Regions from separate parts of the Homo sapiens genome. Here all the other regions are linked to region 2. Evidence: fine-mapped expression QTL. A gene starts in region 2. Each other region holds a variant in brackets. All regions are shown on one strand. Distances are from middle to middle.

Evidence for each region.
Region 1: its variant is fine-mapped to the expression of MFHAS1 in whole blood (INTERVAL, PIP above 0.99).
Region 3: its variant is fine-mapped to the expression of MFHAS1 in whole blood (TOPMed, PIP above 0.99).

What each region holds. Positions count from the first base shown.
Region 1 is chr8:8,851,568-8,859,241 of GRCh38, reverse strand. The region is part of intron 1 of MFHAS1 (multifunctional ROCO family signaling regulator 1); the gene reads left to right. Among named protein-coding and RNA genes, the nearest start is that of MFHAS1, 38 kb to the left of the region's middle. The variant T/C (reference allele first, on the strand shown) is at 3,857.
Region 2 is chr8:8,891,231-8,898,904 of GRCh38, reverse strand. It overlaps MFHAS1 (multifunctional ROCO family signaling regulator 1), which reads left to right and starts at 5,275. Exons shown (of 3, transcript NM_004225.3): 1 at 5,275-7,674. The coding sequence starts at 5,847. It also overlaps the pseudogene RNU6-682P. RefSeq lists silencers at 5,130-5,379, 5,390-5,669, 5,780-6,049 and enhancers at 5,894-6,854, 6,855-7,674.
Region 3 is chr8:8,865,969-8,873,642 of GRCh38, reverse strand. The region is part of intron 1 of MFHAS1 (multifunctional ROCO family signaling regulator 1); the gene reads left to right. Among named protein-coding and RNA genes, the nearest start is that of MFHAS1, 24 kb to the left of the region's middle. RefSeq lists a silencer at 4,870-5,164. The variant C/A (reference allele first, on the strand shown) is at 4,349.

The sequences.
Region 1 (7,674 bases), 40 kb after region 2:
CTCCCAGGTGGCTGGGACTACAGGCGTGTGCCACTACACCCATGTAATTTTTGTAGAGACGGGGTTTCGCCATGTTGGCCAGGCTGGTCTCGAACTCCTGACCTCAAGTGATCCTTGCATCTCAGCCTCCCAAAGTTTTGGGATTACAGGCATGAGCCATCACTACCAGCCGTGGTGAGCTTTGTTTAACCAAGCATTTTTCAAACTTATTGACTGAAGAATCTTTATGTGTGTGTGTATGTGTGTGCATATGTAAGAAGTAACATCCGCTGGAGCTGGTATTGTGCAGAAAATATGTTGAGAAATATAAAACAGATATCTGGCTTGTGTTCCTCTATATAGTCTTTTTTGACTGAGAATGCTTTATCCTTGTTGTTACGGATATTTTCACTTTGTTTATTTCTATTTTGGTCTGAATCATGAGTGTAGTTGATCCTTGAACAACATAGATTTGAACTGCTTGGGTCCACCTCGACGCCACCTGTGCATACGGAGGGCTGGCTCATCTCATATGCAGGTCCCGAGGGCCAACTTCAGGACTTTATGCATAGATTTTGGTGTGCTGGGGATGGGGGCCCTAGAACCCAACCCCCCATATATATACCGAGGGAGGACTGTCTATTTTTGTTTTTTACCTGTGAGGCCATCGCCACAATGAAGAGAGTATCCCCCAAAAGGCATATTTTTAATATAGTTGTAATTATAGCATTGCATAATCGTTTTCAGTAACATAGGTCTCATCTGTTGCTCTAGGTCTTAGTAAAATAAATCACTCTTGTTGAACCCTTCCTAGGCTCCAAAACTGGATGGGCCATTTAATATAATTTTAAATATTAAATTTAAATTTTCTTTCATTTATTAGAATTTTCAAAGGGTAATAATGTTATATATTTAGATTTTGATGACATGGAGACATCTGAGACTTGCTTAGTTTTAAAAAAGCAAAATTTATGTCATACAGCTCTTGTAAGGACTGAATAAAATAATGCATATAAAAATGCCTAAGACAATGCTTGGCATGTAGTGGGCACTTACTAAACAATTTCCTTCCTTCCCTTGCTGGCTTCTTAACTACTCCCTGCCTTGTATACCCCCTGTGCTCCGTCCCAATTTCTGTTCAGATACTAGACAGATGGCTGTTGCTTTGGGATAGGTCAAAGGCTGTCAGGCGTGGAGGCAGGCAAATGACCCAGATCAGTGAACACCAGTCATTGTCTCAGAGCATTTTGTTTTGTTCAGCTCAGCTATTTGAATCATCTTGGATTTTCTCATTTGTTTAGAAAAAGGTTTCCCCAAAATTGGTGGTGTTGGGTTCCTGATAGCAAAATGTATCAACAAGTGGGCAGTCAGCATATGGAATTTGCCCAACTCTACAGGGAAACTTGCTTTAGGTATTTTAAAAGTTAACTTGTCAATGTCACTGTAGGACAGTTATATATCTACTGAGTTTACAAACAAAAGATTTTTTTTTGTTTTTTTTTTGAGACGGAGTCTTGCTCTGTTGCCCAGGCTAGAGTGCCTTGGTGCGATCTTGGCTCACTGCAACCTCTGCCTCCCGGGTTCAAGCGATTCTCCTGCCTTAGCCTCCTGAGTAGCTGAGACTACAGGCACCCGCCACCATGCCTGGCTAATTTTTATATATTTTTTGGTAGAGACGGGGTTTCACAATATTGGCCAGGCTGGTCTCGAGCTCCTGACCTTGTGATCCACCTGCCTGGGACTCCCAAAGTGCTGGGATTACAGGCGTTAGACACCGCGCCGGGCCTGAACTCATTTTTAATTAGAATTCTTATTATTTCAGTGGCTGAATGGAGGAAAAAAGAAAGGACCTAAGCCCAGAAAATTCACAGGTTTGTTTCAGGGTAGAAAAATTTGGCATATTTTGGCCTGGAAGATATCTCATTATGGAATCAGAAATCTGAAAGGGATATTAAATTAGGAGCAAACTTGTGCTGTGTTGGTTAACCACTGAAAGTTGCATTGGCAGTTTAGTAACTAAACAATAGGGCCACACGCGGAATTTATTGATGTCTCATGAACTTTCTGTTTAAATCTTTATTGCTTTGAATTGATAGGCTTCTTTTTTCCCTTCCACTTTGCTTAAGGGACTGAATCTGTTTTTGGCATTCTAAGACTCTTTTTAGAATTTGGCAGTGCCTCTCTAGGATGTTTTCTTCTGCACTGCCTCCAAAACAAAATTATGAACAGCCTGGCTCTTTCGGTATCTCTCCTCTTTTTTTTTTTTTTTTTTTTTTTTTTTTCACTTTCCTGATGTGAAAGTGTCAGGTTTTGAGCCAGTTTGAAAGATGAGAACTAGAATATATTTCTCTTTCTGATCTAGAGAATCCTAGTGGCTTCTAGGGCAGTGTATAAACAAAGCCCTGTGGCTGCAAGGTTTCCCGTGTGCAGCAATAAACTGATACATGCCGGTGACAGGAATCTGGCTCATGGGCTTGAAACCATCCATTAACTCATTAATTGACCAGACATCATGGGGGTCTGCTGAGTGCCATGGGGATGCTCTGTGCTGGGAAAGATGCAAAGATGAATAGGCTAGGAATAAAAGACCAATTTCATTTTTTAATGTGTCAGTATTTTTAATATTGAAATGTAGGACCTTGCAAGTAAAATACTATTAAGCTAATTTCCCAATTTAGAGTCTTTGAATTATTGTCTTGGATATTAAATATATTCAGTGTTTCCCACCAGTGGATCCCAAAGCCTCACCTGATATGTTTGGCAATTGTCAGGCCCTCTTTTTTATACTCCAGAGGAATTCCAACAGGAAATATGTACACACCATCCCTTACCTCCCTTGCTTCTTTTCTTTTCTGCGTCCTACTTTGTTTGATCTTGAAATACGGGGAAGTATCTTCTGGGCAAGTGCTGTTTCTGTGCCAGGCTGTGCAGGTCATGCTTGCCCCAGTGCCATGAGAAAGACACTCGAGTGAGCTCGGGACAGATCTCTCCAGCACTGTCCTGGCTTGACCCCACCTGACCAGTGACTCTTGTACCATGCCCAGCTCCTTTGGCTGCTGGAGCAAAAAGATCTAGGGAGTTTGTTTTCCAAATAAGGGCCCCAGATCTTACTTTCAGAGCTGTGCATGTGAGGAGTTCATGGGGAATCCCTCATCTCAGCAGACATGGGGAAGACCGTCTTCTAAACTGTAGTTCTGAAACAGGTAAACATTCAGTCCCCGCTCGCTTTCAAAGCACAAAAGTGAGGAGGCTTATTTGGCATTGAAATAACTGAGCATCTTTTCTCATCTGTGTTTCTGAATCTGTTATGGCCAGTGTTTTATAACCCCCTTCACATTACCTTGTCAGTAACTTGCTTCAGATGAAAATAACGGCAGAAAGCATAATTTTTTGTTTTTTTCTTTTTTGAGACGGCGTCTCACTCTGTTGCCGAAGCTGGAGTGCAGTGGCGTGATCTCGGCTCACTGCAACCTCAGCCTCCCAGGTTCAAGTGCTTCTCCTGTCTCAGCCTCCCAAGTAGCTGGGATTACAGGTGCCTGCCACCATGCCTGGCTAAATTTTGTATTTTTAGTAGAGAGTAGGTTTTGCCATGTTGGCCAGGCTGGTCTTGAACTTCTGACCTCAAGTAATCCACCCGCCTCGGCCTACCAAAGCGCCAGGATTACAGGTGTGAGCCACCGTGCCTGGCTGAAAACACTGTAGCGAGTTCATGAATCAGGATTAAAGAATCTGTGGGATATATAGAATGATAGAATAAATTCTATAACGTTCATTTTCATTGTGCAGGATGGAGACATTAGTGTGCATCTCAGTTAGGATTTAATTGCTCCTTCCCTGTGTTCTTGAAAGCGCTTGGAAAGCGCCTCCAATCCTCCAT[T/C]GTATGATTCTAGTTCAGGTCTGGCTCTTTCACCAGACAATGAGCTCCTGTGGTAAGATGCCATGTCTTAATTCATCTGTTTTCCGCTTGTCCTAATACAATGTTAAGATTGCCAGATAAAATACAGGATGTCGGCTGAGTGTGGTGGCTCACGCCTGTGATCCCAGCACTTTGGGAGGCCGAGGCGGGTGGATCCCCTGAGCCCAGGAGTTCGAGACCAGCCTGGGCGACATGGCGAGACCTCTCTCAACAAGAAATAAAAAATAATTTTGGTATGCTGGGGGTGGGGGCCCTAGAACCAAACCCCCCATATATACTGAGGGAGGACCACGACTGTGGTCCCAGCTTCTTGACAGGCTGAGATGGGAGAATCACTTGAGCCCAGGAGATGGAGGCTGCAGTGAGCTGTGATAGTATCACTGCACTCCAGCGTGGGGTATAGAGTGAGATCCTGTATCAAAAACAAAGAAACAAACAAACAAAACCCCAAAAACCCAAAACCAAAAAAACAGGATAGCCAGTTAAATTTGAATTTCAGATAAACAATAAAGTGTTGCTTATGGGTGGGTCTCATGTATACATCTATTCTTACATCTGAATTTCACGTAAGCAACGAATAATTTTTAGTGTAAATATGTTCCATGTGATGTTCTGATTTAGTCATAATACATATTTTTTTCTTTCTTCCTTTTTTTTTTTTTGAGACAAAGTCCCCCTCTGTCATCCAGGCTGGAGTGCAGTGGTGCAATCTTGGCTCACTGCAACCTCCACCTCCAAGGTTCAAGCAATTCTCATACCTCGGCCTCCTGAGTTGCTGGGACTAGAGGCATGCACCACCTCACCTGGCTAATTTTTTTTTTTTTTTGAGACAGAGTCTCGCTCTGTTGCCCAGGCTGGAGTGCAGTGGTGCGATCTCAGCTCACTGCAAGTACGGCCTCCCGGGTTCACTCCATTATCCTGCCTCAGCCTCCGGAGTAGCTGGGACTGTAGGCGCCCACCACCAAGCCTGGCTGATTTTTTGTATTTTTAGTAGAGACGGGGTTTCACTGTGTTAGCCAGGATGGTCTTGATCTCCTGACCTCTTCTTGACCTCCCAAAGTGCTGGGATTACAGGCGTGAGCCACTGCACCTGGCCTAATTTTTATGTTTTTAGTAGACACGGGGTTTCACCATGTTGGCCAGGCTGGTCTTGAACTCCTGACCTCAAGTCATCCTGCCACCTTGGCCTCCTAGAGTGCTGGGATTACAGCTGTGAGCCACCACACCCAGCGTATATTTTTGTTTTGTAAATTGGGCAACCTTATACAATGCCCATGACTTACAAAGGATTTTTTGCTCCTAAATCAGTGTAATTTAATAATGTGAACACAACTAAGACAAATCAAGGTGTTCATGGAGTTGGTTGGTGTCTTTTATGGAATGCAACATGGGAATTGGAAATAGTAATTATCCACCTTCACCAGTGTGTTAGTGAGTATGGACCATTTAACCTACAACAGTTGGATAACCTTGACAATAGAAATAGGTAGCTAAGCCAGGGGTGGTGGCTCCTAGTACTTTGGGAGGCCGAAGTAGGGGGATCACTTGAGGTCAGGAGTTCGAGACTAGCCTGCCCAACATAGTGAAACCCTGTCTCTACTAAAAACACAAAATTTGCCAGGAGTGGTGGCGCATAGCTGTAATCTCAGCTACTCAGGAGGCTGAGACAGGAGAATCGCTTGAACCCTGGAGGCGGAGTTTGCAGTGAGCTGAGATTGCGCCATTGCACTCCAGCCTGGGCGACAGAACAAGACTCCATCTCAAATATATATACGTAGCTAGGACCTGACCTAATGGTTGTACCCACACTGTTTGCCTTGTACGTGCCAGGCACTAGCAATCTAAGTTGTGTGTGGTTTTTTTTTTTTTTTTTTTTTTTTAAGAATGAGCAGACACCTTGTGCGATTGTCCAGGTTAACTAACAAAAATAGTTGTCTGGGTTTATGGAACTGTAATTACGAGTCAGATCCTGGTTCCCTTCCGCTTTCTCTGCTATTTCTGGTTGCTCCTTTTTATTCCCAAAAGGTAGAAAGGGGCAGGTAGGACAGGAGCTTGCCGCCTGTTGAACTAGAGGGAGTAGCTTCCGAGCAAACTGTGACAAAATGGGGTATTTTAAGCCTCCATTTTTTTTGGGGGGTATGTGAGTGTGTGTGTGAGTCGGTGTATATGTACACAGTGCAAGTAAATAAGCCTGAGTGGGTGGCAAGAGCCTTGTTTGTGTAGTAGGAGAAATGGAGCCTGCAGGGGCATAGTCGGGGTCTTGAGAGCAGACACACGGACTGAGCCAGGCAGTTGCTGCTGAGAACAGAATCAGGACCTCCTGCTTCCTTTGGGTGATATTGGGTTTTTTAGGCCACCTTCCCAGCCACAAAGTAGGACTCTGAAATACATCCGGGTATAAATGTTCTTATGGAAATGCAATCACTTCTGACTTTAAGTATGTAGAAGTGAGGGCTCATACCCTTCTCCCAGAATGTAAATTTGACTCATCGGGGCTAACAACAATGATAGCCTAATATAAGAAACTGTTTACCGGACTCTGTTCTGATGTCAGCCAAGCTAGAGCTTTGCATGGTGGGATGCTTTCTCTTGGCTGTGCCCTATTAGGGAAGGCAAAAATAGAAAGCTTTTTCTCTGGACTTCAGAACGGAATTAATGCATGGTTATTAAAAGCATCAATGGCAAATGGCCATGGAAGTCAGAATCTCAGCCTTAATGAAGGGCGATGGTGTCCACAGAACCAATTATTTTGCAAAGAAATAAAATAATAAAATCCTCCCATTGGTTTTAGAGTGGCTGAAACCAGCAGGCACCAGGTCTAAACCCTCTTGTGGGTGTGTGTGTTTGTGTGTATGTGTGTGTGTGTGTGTGTGTGTTTGAGAGAGGGTCTCGCTTTGTTGCTTACGCTGGAGTGGCGTGATCTCAGTTCACTGCAGCCTCCGCCTCCCAGGTTCAAGCGATTCTCTTGCCTCAGCCTCCCAAGTAGCTGGGATTACAGGTGCATGCCACCACACCCAGCTAATTTTTGTATTTTTAGTAGAGATGAGGTTTCACCATGTTGCACAGGCTGGTCTCGAATTCCTGACCTCAAGTGATCTGCCCGCCTCGGCTTCCCAAATGTGATTACAGGTGTGAGTCACCGCACCTGGACATTGTGGTATGTTTTAAGTACTCACGCTAATGACATTTATACCTTGCTTGGCACTCCTGAAACCTCAGCTCTCTGGAGGACAGAATATCTGCTAAGGGTGCGACTCCCATGGTGCTGGAGAGGGGTCTCCTTCGAATGGAAGCCGGCATTCCACCACCCACTCCCTATGTATCCAAAACTGGGCTTGGCATCGCTGTTCCTGAGGGAGCGCTCTGTCCTTATTAGGGATCCGCCTGGTGACCTCAGATTTACACTTAAGCTTCAACTTTGTTGAGGGAAAACATTTTTTCTCTGTCACCAAGAGAATGGAGAACACTGTGATCGCTTTTCAAGTCTCACCTGCCAGGAAATCTTTATTTTGCGGGGGGCATCACAACTTCCTCTTTTTCCATGTACCTTAGTTTACTATTACTTTAAGTGTTTTGGTTGGATTAACTTCCTGTATTTGTTCTTATTTTAAATACATTCTTTAGTTAAAGTGTTACTCAGTGAATGGAAAGAGAAAAACAAGGCAAGAGGAAGGGGTATAATATGAAAGAATAGAGTTTTGTTTCCAGTTTTGTTTTGCAACAGTAGATAAGAACTGTAAACTTTCTAGTCCCTGGTTTTTTAATAGTATATGGAAACA
Region 2 (7,674 bases):
TATTTGACAGAGAAAGGAAGTAAAGTAGTCAGACAGTAGCTAGGGCATTAGCAAGGTTGAGAGAAATCTGTCAAGATGGAAGAAGGTTGATTGAATATGCTGAAGACACAGCAAAAGAAACTAGGATGAAAGCTTACTTGGGGCTTGTTGATAGTTTTAGCAAAGGATAGGAACAAACTACTCTTGCCCACCTCTATTCAGACTTTTTTTTTTTTGAGACAGCGTCTCGCTCTGTCGTCCAGGCTGGAGTGCAGTGGCACGATCTCGGCTCACTGTGACCTCTGCCTCCTGGGTTCAAGTGATCCTCCTGCCTCAGCCTCCTGAGTAGCTAGGATTACAGGAGTGCATCACCACGTCTGGCTAATTTTTTTTTTTTTGTATTTTTAGTAGAGAGGGGGTGTCACCGTGTTGGCCAGGCTGGTCTTGAACTCCTGACCTCAAGTGATCCGCCCACCTCTACCTCCCAAAGTGTTGGGATTACAGTCGTGAGCCATCACACATTGCCAATCCAGACTGTTCTTGACAAAAGACGCTTATCTGGAGCATCTAGGATTCTCCCTTCTAAACAGCCATGTTTCAAGGCCTCACTCAAGACACAACCTCTTTCCATGTACTCTCCACTCTCCTGAATGACTCTGCTCTTGCAGACAGGGTCTAGACTCTGGAACAAAGCCAATGTGTATGGAATGCTCTTGCCATCATAAGGCAGCAGCGAAAGAGAAAACAATCTAAGAGTCAGAAAACAGGATATATTAAAAGGCTTAAGCTGAAAAGGTTTTGGAAAGTTTATAGATTAGATTCATGACATTGGATAGACCTCTAAGGAAAGAAAACTTTATATAATAGAGTTCCTCTTCTCCAAACAATGTTGTTGTTGTTTTTGCTTTTAGAAAAACCCTACCATTTGCAGGGCCACGCTTATCCTTTGCAGGGCCTGGGGAAAGGGTACACGGGAAGGCCCACATGCCACATGCCTAAATATCTAAATGTGTTACATCACCCTAACAGATGTGGCACATTCACACTCCTTGCCCTAGCCTGGGCTACATCCAGCACAGAGAGGAGCTTCGTCGGCACACAGCTGAGGTCCAGCTCCTGCACAACCCCCAGGTCTAGGGATGCCCACCTCAATAACTTCTTTCGAATGACTATGAAAGACTGCCCCACGCTCCCCATCCAGGCTTGAGGCTATTTGCATTGGGAATTCAGGGTCCTCCATACCATGTGTGTTCTAGAAGGTGGAGGGGGCGTGCCCCCTTGGCCCATCAGAAACTTAACCACACGGGGTACAGCATGGTGAGAGGAGGGCCAGGTTAGGTGCCCACGGCAGGAGTCCTTGCCTGGGTTGATACTTGAGAGGATCACTTGAGCACAGGAGTTCGAGATCAGCCCGGGCAACATAAGCAGACCCTGTCTCAATGAAAAAACAGAAAAGATGATACTTTCATGAATCCTCTTTCTTTCTTTCTTTTTTCTTTCTGAGATGGAATCTTGCTCTGTTGCCCAGGCTGGAGTGCAGTGGCATGATCTCGGCTCACTGTGACCTCTGCCTCCCGGGTCCACGCGATTCTCCTGCCTCAGCCTCCTGAGTAGCTGAGACTACAGGCACCCACCACCATGCCCAGCTAATTTTTGTATTTTTAGTAGAGATGAGGTTTCACCACGTTGGCCAGGCTGGTCTCGAACTCCTGACCTTGTGATCTGCCCGCCTCGGCCTCCCAAACTGCTGGGATTACAGGTGTGAGCCACTGCACCCAGCCCAGGAATCATTTCTATAGTTCTTTACGAAGCAGTTTCTTTGAAAGTGGAAAGCACAAAGAAAAAAAAATTTTAAAGCTATATGGAACACAATATCTTTTCATAGAGTTTTCTTTTATCATTGAGTTATCTTTTATCATTTGACTTTCTAGTTTTTAGCATACTGACTTTCTTTTGTTGTGTTGTGTTGTATTTTGAGACAGAGTCTCACTCTGTTTCCCAGGCTGGAGTACAGTGGTGCAGTCTTGGCTCACTGCCGCCTCCACTTCCCAGCCTCAAGTGATCTTCCCGCGTCACTCCTGAGTAGCTGGGACTACAGGTGTGCGCCACCACACCCTACTAATTTTTGTATTTTTTGTAGAGATGATGTCTTGCCTTGTTGCACAGGCTGGTCTCGAACTCCTGAGCTCAAATGATCTGCTCGCCTCAGCCTCTGGAAGTGCTGGGATTACAGGCATATACCCCTGTGCCCATTCACATACTGACTTTCAAAGAACTCATAGACAAGGATTCTTACAAGGCTTCCTACTATATTGACTGCATCAGCTGAGGGGCTCACAAAGAATTGCCACCCCCAGCACACTTATTCACTCCAGGCTTTGGGGCTTTAGTGGGGCTTGAAGCCCCTAGCGCAGGGTCCTAGCCAGTACTTTTTATTAGATAAAGCAAATTATAGATGATCTCCTGACAAATGAAGAGTGCAGTTTTCCAAGGACATTTAAAATAGAAGTATAAGCTGGTCAGGGTGGCTTATGCCTATAATCCCAGCTACTCAGGAGGCTCAGGCAAAAAGACTGCTTGAGCCCAGGAGTTCGAGTCCAGCATGGGCAACAAAGCAAGACCCCCATCTCCAGAAAAAAAAAAAAAAAAGAAAGAAAGAAAAGAAAGGAAAATATAATTTTCTTCAGAGAAAAAGTCTCACTCTGTCACCCAGGCTGGAGTGCAGTGGTGTGATCTTGGCTGACTGCAACCTCCGCCTTCTGGTTTCGAGCAACTCTCGTGCCTCAGCCTCCTGAGTAGCTGGGGACTAAAGGTGCGCACCACTATGCCTGGCTAATTTTTGTATTTTTAGTAGAGATGGGGTTTTGACATGTTGGCCAGGCTGGTCTTGAGCTCCTAACCTCAACTGATCCACCACCTCGGCCTCCCAAAGTGCTGAGATTACAGGCATGAGATGCCATGTCCGGCCATTTTTCTTTTTTAAAATAATTTTTTAAATGAAAATATTATTAAATAAATGAACACCATGAATTTGCATGTCATCTTTGTGCAGGGCCATGCTAATCCTCTCTGTATTTTTCCAATTTTAGTATATGTGCTGCTGAAGCAAGCACAATTTTCATTTTTTTCAATTGATTTCAGCTTCTGCAGGAGGAAGTATAATTTTCTGATGGCTTCTAAAGAGGAACAGTTAGCAGTTATTGAGATATAATCATGTAAGGTGGTGTAGGATGGTGATGCCTACTCCAGTCTCCTTACCCAGGCTGAGTTCATATTTTTGTTAGAAGAAGCTGCAGGATGGAGAATTTGGGGTCTGGCTCAAGAACAGTGTGAGTACAGGTGATGATCACAGGGGAATACATTCCACACGGGGAGTTAGCAGTCCTGCCTCTACTCTACTTTGATGGCTGATTGAGAAGTCACTTACTTTGAGCCCATTTCCTCCTCTGTGGGGGAAAAAAAGGGTCAGCCTAGATAACTCAGAATATTTGTTGTAAAATTGACTGTCTCTGGGAGGGAGTGTGGGTGGGGCTACCCTGAGCCATCTGAACTCTCGGAAGTCCTTCAGAGTGAACACAGATCAGCTCTTGCTGTTCACTTACTCACATTTCATCTGTGGTGTCAGAGCCTCAGGGACCCAGCAGAACTGGGGAACATCCTCCAGTTACAGCATGTACTACCTGCAGCCTGATAACCATCACTGGGGTGGATTTCCAGCCTCAGATGTTCAGGTGCTCTTTTTGGAAACACACACTTCTCACGTTACTGCACCAAATATGGGTCCCCAAATGACAGCCATAGCGCATGTCGGGGAGAGCTGCAGTGGGTCAAGTGATGCCTTTAACCAACTGAACGCAGTTTTCGGTCCCTGAAAACTATTTGCTTCCTTATCAATCAACCTGAAGGGAATGATGGAGGTGACACTGGGAGTCTTGGTAGGTTTCCAGACTTTCATAAGTTCGGGAGAAATTATTGACTTAGCATAGATGTGAGCTCAAAGAAACATTTCCTAACAGCAATAAAAATAAGCATTAGAGTTGAACAATGGACTGTGACTGTTTCCCAAAATAGCTGTTTTCTTGAGTCCGCAGAACAACAGGTACTGTATTAATGGGGATACAGTATTTGTTTCACAGCGTTGTTGTGAAGATAAACGGGATACCCCAGATAAACAGCTTGTGTCCCCCCCATCTTAACAACCCTCCTTTAGGCTGGCGGGCCACCTGCTCAAAAGCCTTCCCCAGGGGGGTTAAAACCGTCTTTTAGTAGTTCTGGTACGGGTGGGCTGGGGGAGATCCTCTAAAGCCAGTGCGACCTTGACCCCAGCCAATGTCCAGGCTCTTGACACATCCAGAGAATGAGTTCAAGGACAACTCAGAAAATAGTGACAATATGCAGATTTATTGCAAAGGGAAAAGTACACACCCAGGAAAAGGGATTGTGGAGAGGGTCACTCACAACGGGGCTTGGGGCTGCTACCTTTATGGGTTTCTTTAACCAAGGGGTGAAATATTCATGAAAATTCCTGGAAAAGTGTGGAGATTTTTCGGGACTGTGGTGCCACCCATTTTTACTTCAAATATGGGTGTCCCCGGAATTGTCATGGCACTGGTGTGACTTAGGATGTTAAAGAGCGTATAATGGAGGCCTAGGAGAAACCTAGGTCAAATCCAGGACCACGTCGGGTCCAGCCGGTCTTAGCCAGCTTGGTACACACCCTGGTTTTCAGGGTCTTATCAGCCCATAGCCTCCAGTCAAGTGAAACTGCTGCCTGGTATTTTTTATTCTCCTCTGACCAGCCTGCATTACTCCTGTCCCATGTTCAACACGAAATAGGGCCTCAGGAAATATTTACCAAATGAATGAATGGTTGCCTGTTCTAATTTTGTTTAACCACACTCTTGTCCTAAGCTTCTATGATGATACCCAGGGCCCCCGAGTTGTGCCAGTTCCACTACGGCGTGGATGCAAGGCGAGCGGCAGGGGAGCAGGTAAAGGATGAGTAAGGGAAGCCGGCGGATCCGACGCATTAGAGAACAAGAAAAAGAAATCCTTAGAGACTGGGGGCCAACAAAGAGCCAGGCGCGGGCGAACCCACCAGGGGGGCCCCGGAGCCCCACATCCGCCGCTGGGACGACCTCCCCGCCCAGCATGGTCCGGGGCGCGGACCCGGCCCCGCGCCAGGCGCCCCCGGCCCCGCACCCGGCGCCCTCCGCAGCTCCCGCCCCCGGGGCGGTGCCGGGAAAACGCGGCGCCTCCGCCGGTCACGTGGGGGCCGCTCCGGCGGGCGGCGCTGCCGCTTCCCAATCGCGCCCTCCCAGCGCCGGGGACGCGGCGCCCGCGCTCCCGCCCGAGCCCGGGGAAACGGAGACAAGGAGGCGCCGCCGCCCCCTCCCCGCGGCTGCGCCCCAGCCCTGCGCCCGCAGCATGCCCGCCGCCGGGCCGAGCGCCGCCCTCCCCCAGGAGCTCGAGGAGGCGACGCCGCTGCCGGCCGCGGGACCGCGGCTGCGAGGGTAGCGGGGCCGGAGCCGGGCCCCCCGAGGCGCCGCGCGGCGGGCGGAGAGGGAGGAGGAGCAGGCATCCTCCGCGGCGCGCGGGCGGCGGCCCTGCTGCCCGGCGCGCCCATGGCCCGGCCGCAGGGAGAATGCAAGCTGCTCTCCACGCGCTCGGCGTCCCCCGGAGCCGCTCGCGTCGCCGCCGCCCCCTAGCCGCCAGCGCTCGGCCGCTGGCTGCGCTAGGACCCGCGGCCGCCGGCCGCCGAGCGCGGGAGGGCAGGCAGGGGCAGGAGCCGGAGGGCCCGGGGCGCGGCGCGGCATGTAGCTGCGGGCTCCCGCGTCCGCGTGAGGCTGTCGGCCCGGGGCCCCGCCATGGCTGGGATGGACAGTGGCAACCTGAAGACCGCGAGGCTGTGGCGGGACGCCGCCCTGCGTGCCAGGAAGCTGCGGAGCAACCTGCGCCAGCTCACGCTTACCGCCGCCGGGGCCTGCCCCGGGGCCGGGGCCGACGCGCTCGAGTCCCCCGCCTCCCCCCAGCTCGTGCTGCCGGCCAACCTCGGGGACATTGAGGCACTGAACCTGGGGAACAACGGCCTGGAGGAGGTACCCGAGGGGCTGGGGTCGGCGCTGGGCAGCCTGCGCGTCCTGGTCCTGCGCAGGAACCGCTTCGCCCGGCTGCCCCCGGCGGTGGCCGAGCTCGGCCACCACCTCACCGAGCTGGACGTGAGCCACAACCGGCTGACCGCCCTGGGCGCGGAGGTGGTGAGTGCTCTGAGGGAGCTGCGGAAGCTCAACCTCAGCCACAACCAGCTGCCCGCCCTGCCCGCCCAGCTGGGCGCTCTCGCTCACCTGGAGGAGCTGGATGTCAGCTTTAACCGGCTGGCGCACCTGCCTGACTCCCTCTCCTGCCTCTCCCGCCTGCGCACCCTGGACGTGGATCACAACCAGCTCACTGCCTTCCCCCGGCAGCTGCTGCAGCTGGTGGCCCTGGAGGAGCTGGACGTGTCCAGCAACCGGCTGCGGGGCCTGCCTGAGGATATCAGTGCCCTGCGTGCCCTCAAGATCCTCTGGCTGAGTGGGGCCGAGCTTGGCACGCTGCCCGCCGGCTTCTGCGAGCTGGCCAGTTTGGAGAGCCTCATGCTAGACAACAACGGGCTGCAGGCTCTGCCCGCCCAGTTCAGCTGCCTGCAGCGGCTCAAAATGCTCAACCTCTCCTCCAACCTCTTCGAGGAGTTCCCTGCCGCGCTGCTGCCCCTGGCTGGTCTGGAGGAGCTCTACCTTAGTCGCAACCAGCTCACCTCGGTGCCATCCCTTATCTCGGGCCTGGGCCGGCTTCTCACCTTGTGGCTGGATAATAACCGCATCCGCTACCTGCCGGACTCCATCGTGGAGCTGACCGGCCTGGAGGAGCTCGTGCTGCAGGGGAACCAGATCGCGGTGCTGCCCGACCACTTTGGCCAGCTCTCCCGGGTGGGTTTGTGGAAGATCAAAGACAACCCACTGATCCAGCCCCCCTACGAGGTCTGCATGAAGGGGATCCCCTACATCGCAGCCTACCAGAAGGAACTGGCTCATTCCCAGCCGGCGGTGCAGCCCCGGCTCAAGCTGCTCCTGATGGGGCATAAGGCTGCAGGAAAGACTTTGCTGCGCCACTGCCTCACCGAGGAGAGAGTGGAGGGATGCCCAGGAGGAGGGGACAAGGAGAAGTGCTACCCACCGTCACCTCCCCCTGTGAGCAAGGGCATCGAGGTGACCAGCTGGACGGCCGATGCCTCCCGGGGCCTGCGGTTCATCGTGTATGACTTAGCTGGGGATGAAAGTTATGAGGTGATCCAGCCCTTCTTCCTGTCCCCAGGGGCCCTATACGTGCTGGTGGTCAACTTGGCCACCTATGAGCCTCGCCACTTTCCTACCACCGTGGGCTCCTTCTTGCATCGGGTCGGGGCGAGAGTGCCCCACGCGGTGGTGTGCATCGTGGGCACCCACGCAGACCTGTGCGGAGAGCGTGAGCTGGAGGAGAAATGTCTGGACATTCACCGCCAGATCGCCCTGCAGGAGAAGCACGACGCGGAGGGACTGAGCCGCTTGGCCAAGGTGGTGGACGAGGCACTGGCCCGGGACTTCGAGCTGCGCTCTGCCAGCCCCCACGCAGCCTACTATGGCGTTTCGGACAAGAACCTTCGACGGCGCAAGGCCCATT
Region 3 (7,674 bases), 25 kb after region 2:
GTTCTGCACAGGAAATGTTTCTTGGATGTTTTATCCTCATACCAAGTGGGAATTTAAAATTTAAGAGATTACCCACACTCTTTGCCTTTCTGTACATGTGATGAAGAAAGAGTGGGTGTAACCCAGCACTCTAAAATGTGTTTGACCTGTAAAAAAAAAAAAAAAAAGTAAGCAATTAAATCCTGTTATAGTTGCTTCTGTGTTTAAAACATACTTAATGACGTATATATTTATTTCAAGCTAACAAAGTCCCCAGTCAGGTTCTTGGGAGTTTTTTTCACAGGACTCATTGAAGTGTTTGGTCTTTAAAATCCTTCATTTCATGCTAACTGCCAAGTCAATGCAGACAGTATGGCCGAACAGAGCTGGTCACATTTTCCCTGAACATGCTATTAAAAAATATATTCACTGGGATTCTCTTGACTCATGGCATAGCTGAGGTGACTTTGATTCCGGAGGGCTATTGCTTATGAATTGCATGTGGAAGAACTAAAAATAGAAATGTGAATTTTCCAAAAGAACACTATGATACCAAAAATGGCTCACTGGCTTGCCTAGAGCTGGGCTGTTTTGTGCCCAAGGTACAGTAATAAGAACTGGGATGCAAAGCCCTGTAGGGTGCATCTGTCCCCTTCCCTGACACCCCTCACTCCCAGATGGCTCACGAGTGGCACTGCCCGGTTGTCTCCGTCTCACTCTTGCACGATGTTCTGCTGCCTGTCTGGGATGGAGCAGGTGTTCTTTTGAATGTATTTGTTAAGCCTCTGAAATATATGCATTTCCCCCTCCCCAAGAAAAACACACATGTGCATGCTCTGTGCTTTTCCCTGGTTACTGTATTGTTCCCATCTTTTTTTTTATTTTTATTTTTTCCCTTGGAATAGGGAATATCCACTCATTTTCTATTTAGTCCCTTCAGGAATTTGCCTTAGGGGCTGTTGGGCCAGGCCTCACTGCAGCCAGCCAGAGCTTATCAGCTGTGTGTTAACCTCTCCCAGACACTTCTTGAATGCTGTTCATGCATCCGAGCCTATGCATCTGAGCCTCCTCTGTGTAATGTGGTGCGGCATTAAAAGCTTACCCAAATAGCAGGGATGATTGCATCTTGTTGATTACCAGGGCTGATAACATTTTCTTGCTTAGCTAAAAAGAAAAGCCAGATGACTGTTTCCAGGAAGTGATAAACTGCCATGCATCCGGCCCCAGGTGGTCCGCATGAAGGAAGCTGCAAGGTTGGAATCCTCCTGCCGTCCCCTTTTACAGTTCATAAATCTTCTGATTTATGGGGCCATTTGTGATTGCAGACACATTTATTCATGGGGGGATTTCCATCGAGATCATAACCCACTGTAAAGCAGGAGGAAGAATCAGGAATTAGAACGGTGTACATTCCTCTTTGTTAGAAAAGAATCCCGATTCTTTGGTCATAGACAAATATTTGCTTTTGAAGAATCTGGTGGTGTGTCGCTGGCTTTGTTCATATCCGTGCACAGTCACATGCTCCCTTGCCTCCCATGGACCCAGAAGCTTATGTTACACAGATCGTTTTATAATGCTTGCCATCCGGGCATGTTTATGCAAAGTGTGAATAACTTTTTGCCTTAGCCTCCTCTTCCTTCCTTCTCCCTCCTTTGATTTAGCTCATTTCTGGAATGGGGCAGATTTTCATCTCAGGGAGTTGATACGGTTTCCTAGGTAGGGTGACAGAACAAGTGTCACCTTAGCTGTAGCTAGAGATGAATATTGCCATGCAGCTTACTTGCTTTATATTAAACCAGCATTAGAGAAAGAGGCCTTGCATCTTTTATCAGCAGTATGTTAACCTCTCCCAGGCACTTCTTGAATGCCATTCATACATCTGAGCCCATGCATCTGAGCCTTGGATGTAATTAAATCAGTGGATTAGGAAGTCGGGGGCCTGGACCTCTGGGAAGCCACTTGGCCTCCCTGGGCCTCAATTTCGTCTGTAAATAGGTAAAAATAATTCTAACAGTTCCCAAGCATTTACACCTGCTATCAGAGTCTCCTTAGATGTTGTGAGGGGGAAATGAATGAATAGATGTCAAGTCCCCAAGTAGTTTTTTCTTTGTTTGCGTGTTTGTGATCACTCTGTTGCCCAGGCTGGAGTGCAGTGGAGTGATCTTGGCTCACTGCAACCTCCACCTCCCTGGTTCAAATGATTCTTGTGCCTCATTGTCATGAGTAGCAGGGATTACAGGCATGTGCCACCATGCCCAGCTAATTTTTGTATTTTTAGTAGAAACTGGGTTTCACCAAGTTGGCGAGGGTGGTCTCAAACTCCCGACCTCAAGTGATCCAGCCCCCTCGGCCTCCCAGAGTGCTGGGATTACAGGTGTGAGCCATCACGCCCAGCTGCAAGTAGTTTTTACCATATAATAAGGGCTCAGTAAACATTAGCTCTGATTACCATCATCCTGGTTTACAGATGAGGAGTGGAGACAGAGGAGGGCTAAGTCATATGGCCAGGGGCACACAGCATGTAGCAGAGCCCAGGTTGTCCTCAGGAACCTATGGTCTTTGCTGTCACCCTGTGCTGCTTCTCAGGAAGGCAATAGCTTGTCACCCATTAAAAATGGGTAGTTATTTGAATGAAAAGCAGAATAACCCCCGGAGGCAGAGGTTGCAATGAGCTGAGATTGCACCATTGCACTCCAGCCTGGGCAACAGAGTGACGCTCCTGTCACCAAAAAAAGAAAAAAAGTAAGGACTCCTTGTGTGAAATGCACATGGTTGCTTTTAACATTGCAGTACTGGACTATAAACATTTGCTGGGGATTGGCAGTGACCAGCCATGGGGCAGAGCATGGGGCATGGGAGGGGAGCAAGGCCTTGACCCCGGGAAGCTGCAGTCCAGGGAAGCAGTGTGGACAGTAAGCAGAGATTTGCAGGGCTGTGTAATAAATTCCAGGAGAAAAAGATCTCCAGGGGCTCGGAGAGGCCTGCGGGATGGAATCTGTCTTGATCCACGTGTGTGTGTGTGGGGTGGTTAGATGGATGGGAGGTCTCCAGGGGAGGTGAGTCGTAGGGACTTTCTGTAAAACCAGGGCCCCTGACGTGTGATGGGCTGTACAAATTACTGGCAGCCCAACTATTCATTTATCAATGCACGTCTGTAAATATTTTTGTTTTCTTTTTAAACCTTTTTTGTTTTCCTGGGAGACAGAGTCTTGCTCTGTCATTTAGGCTGGAGTGAGGTGGCGCGATTTCAGCTTACCACAGCCTCAACTTCCTGGGCTCAAGCTATCCTTCCACTGCAGCCTCCCGAGTTAGCTGAGACTGTAGGTGCGTGCCACCATGTCTGGCTAATTTTTTTTTTTTTTTTTTTTTTTTTGTAGAGACAGGGTCTCACTATGTTGCCTAGGCTGGTCTTGAACTCCTGTGCTTAAGTGATCTGTGCATCTTGTCCTCCCGAAGTGCTGGGATTACAGGTTGAACCACTGTACATATCCCGTGTAAATAACTTTTAGCCTATCTATTCACTAGCTAACACTTTTTCACCAGAAGGAACTTCTGGCATCTGGGTGTTAAGCTAAATTAAAGCCTGATGGTTTTTTTCAGAGGGTGAGAGGAAAATACTGAAGGGTCAAATGGGGAAATGTCAAATTTCCATTTTGTCAGCACACTCAGGGCAGCAGTGTGGAAGATGGATTTCAATGGAGTAAGAATGGAGTCAGAGGGACCACTTAGAGGTAATTCAGACAATAATAAACAATAGAGGCCCCCAGGTAGGTCCTTGGGGATGAAGGCAATTGAGTCTTGGATGTTAATGAGGCAGAGTCCTGGGCCTCTCTCCTCCTAGCTCTGAGCTCTTGAACCTTCCCAGGCTCCGGTTTCCTCATCCATTAGACAGAAAGCATGACTGATTTAAGTGTATGTTTCAAGAAAAATTTTAACCACAGCGGGAAGAAGACTGCAGCATGTTTTAAAAAACAGAAAGCGGAAGTGATTTGATAAGATTAATTTCAACAGGACTGATGTGGAACGGCTGCTAGCTTAATTGGTTTATTAGGGTCGTGTAGCCACCCTCTTATGATGGATACCAGGTGAATTCCAGGAGATATATAGTCTTAGGTTTGTAAGCAGTGCCATTTGCAGAGGAATAAGGTTCTTTATTTCTTAAATTTGGAAGGGTCTCATAGAAATAAGAGACTTTATAAATATCTAGTAACCTGTCACCGCTTTAAAATACCGCAAAGATAAATGATGCTGATTGTCGCGTGCTTGGCATGATGAATTATGTATGTAGCGTGCCCCGGAGTTCTTTATGGTTGTGCATAACGAATCAGCTTTTGTTCTAGCTTATTTTCAGTGGTAGTGCTTGTAAAAG[C/A]AGAGGTCAAAGCAGATGCACTGAAGAGATGTGGTTGGTGCAGGATGATCGGGTTTTGCTATCCTGTTCTGTGCATTGCTTTTGTTTGTGCTTTGATTTTTCATTATCAACTTTGGGGAGGGTGGGAGAGCAGCCTTGTGGCATTAACAGCTGCATGATGGCACAGAGCAGGCAGCGACTCTTCTTGGTTCATGCACCTCAAAAGCGGCCCTCTTTTTGCCTTCCTCCTCCTCCTCTCTGCACCTGCTTTGCATAGCTGTTAACTACTTTTCCACCTAATAATAAAGGAAATTGAAATAAATGGTTAGGAACATGCCCATAATCTTTTTTCTCACTGACTTTCTCTAAACTCTAGACGAAACTAGAGAGGATTAAGAAATGTAAAACACAGCAGAGAATGTCTTTTTTTTCCTCTCCCTTTTTCTCTTCCCCTAGCAAAGATTTCTTTAGAATCTGAGTGAGATATCAGAGGTGCTGTTTGCATATGAAGTAGCGATGACTATGGGTGGAAGCCAGTTGTAAGGTTGCATAGTCATTTATAACTTCTTTCTATGTTAAGGTTACTACCGACTTTATGAGAGGAGCCTCCCAGACTCAGGTGTCATGCCTGACTCATGAGTAATTCATTAGAGAGGGCCCAAGCCATGTATTTCATTGTGGGTTTGTGAGCGGCCTCATCTTCCATAAGATGCTCATTTGTTGGGCTGATCCAAGGCAAAGATCCGAGTAGTTGGGAGTAGCTCCAAATTGGGATGAGCCCAGGCCTACTGTGCATATCTGTTTGGAAGGGCACATCTGTCTACCAAGGGCTGGTTCCAGTGTATTAGCCGAGTGGCACTAGGTAATCAGTTTACAGTCAGTTTAAAAAAGTTGAGGCTATCCTTCTCGGTGATTAATTATGGCTTTTAGTTCATACTAGATTAAAAAAAATCTTTGCATCTTTGCAAGAATAATCATTAACTTAGTTTGTCTATATTATTAGCCGAAAGATACAACACAGTGCTCATGCAGTGTAGAGAAATGAGATAACATCTAGAGTTTACATGTAAGTAGCTATTTGTCAGGATATTTATTCATTGATTCTAGATTCATAAAGCAGGAGTTTCCAGAGGCCTTGCAGCAAGGAATAAGCACCTGGGAGATTCAACTGAATCCCCCTCAGAGCCTGTGCGTTGGGAACTTGGTCTAGAAAATGGATCAGGTTTGTGCGCTATACCACTTATTATAATAAATGATAAAAGTCAGTCTGGACAGAGTGCCACAGAAGTTCAGGCGAGAAAGAGGATTCTTCCAACTGAGTGGGGCCATGGAAAAACTCGAGTTCCATTTATTAGCGGTAGGAAACACATGTTGAGAATGAAGAATGGAGTTAAACAATTGGTCTTTCCCTCAGATCCCAGGGTTTTTAACCTGTTACTAAAAAAGTATAGCAATTTATGGCCAGGCACGGTGGCTCACGCCTGTAATCCCAGCACTTTGGGAGGCCGAGGTGGGCCCATCACGAGGTCAGGAGATCGAGACAATCCTGCCTAACACGGTGAAACCCCGTCTCTAGTAAAAATACAAAAAATTAGCCGGGTGTGGTGGCGGGTGCCTGTAGTCCCAGCTACTTGGGAGGCTGAGGCAGGAGAATGGCATGAACCCGGGAGGCGGAGCTTTTGGTGAGCCGAGATTGCGCCACTGCACTCCAGCCTAGGAGACAGCGAGACTCCACCTCAAAAAAAAAAAAAAGTATAGCAATTTATAATGTTTGAATTATCATTAGCTTATTGGCGTGTAATAATACTTTGCATACTTTTAAAATTCTGGGGTTGGATTAATAATAAAAGAGTAGAAACATTGTTTTTATAAAAAAAATTTTCTGTGCGACACCTATAGGCAAGTACCTATGGGCCTCCTTTTAATTTTGGACTGTTTTAGGAATGTTTTATTTTATTTTTGGTATCTTAGGAACCATAAGAAGCATACTTTCAAAAATGTGAGGGTATATTTTTAACTTTTGTTATAAAAATGTAACAAAAAGTTTATATGGTGAAGAATTTAGTGGGTTTGCATATGCTGATGACCATTGTGACTTTCATAAAACCCCACAGCCTGTGTTTAATTCCATTTCCTACTAGTACAGACTTGAAGAGCTCAGTCCATCTCCTTTATTATCTTGTTTCCTTTAATCTATATTAATGCACCTTAGCAGTATCAGAAATTTTGTTAATATATTATGTGTAGCTGAACTGTAAGCTAAAAATAGATCATACCAACCCATCTCTCTTTCTCTTTCTTTTTTTTCCCACTGTCACCTTCACATTTATTCTTAGTGACTTGCAAATGATGGGATTACACCTTAAAAATTGTCTTGTATCAGATATGTATTTCCCCATTCTCTAAAGAAGGCTAATTATGCAAGTACACGGTTCTTTCCTGATTCATGAATTCATATCACGATTTTATTTTCAGATTCCTCAAGGTAATTGCTTGTTAGACTGGTTCACAGGATGAGAGATATCCAAGTAGTCATATGAACCGTTTCCGTCCCATTCATGCCATTCTGTCTTCTGCAGAAAATAAGTGAGTCAATCACTGTTTATGAGAATGTGTAAGAGACTGGGGAGAGAGAAGGGACTCAGTGGCCATTTTGTATCACGGATCCTTTTTACTAGGGATAAGAGTGATCCTTACTGGCTGACTGCAGTGGCTCATGCCTGTAATCCCAAAACTTTGAGAGGTTGAGGTGGGAGGATCGCTTGAGCCCAGGAGTTGAAGACCAGCCTGGGCAACATGGCAAAACCCCATTTCTACAAAAAATAAAAAATTAGCTGGGCGTGGTGGTGCATGCCTGTAGTTGCAGCCGTTGGGGAGGCTGAGGTGGGAGGATTGTTTGAGCCAGGGCGGCAGAGGCTACGGTGAGCTGAGATTACGCCACCGTACTCCAGCCTAGAGGACAGTAAGACCCTGTCTCAAAAAAGAAAAAAAAAAAAACAAAAAAGAAGTGATCCTTGCTAAGTTGCCATAGATCCCTGTTCTAGGTTCCCATTCAGCGTCAGAGTTTTATCGTCTGATAAAACAGGGATCAGTTAGAGAGCTTTTCGCAGGCAAAATGACACTGATTTTACTGAACCAATGGTAAAGAGAAGTGCTCCTAGGTTCCCAGGCCCTGTTCTTCTGTATTCTTCCTGCTTAGAAAAAGAGAATAATAAAAGCACTTCAGCTAGGAGTAGAGCTTTCTAAAAATTGGCCAGCCAAATCCCCAGGGAAACCAGGATTTCAGCTTCTCTGTCATCACCTCTGTTTGAGGTTGGCATGCTTTGGCACTTTTTCCGTGGCTGCAC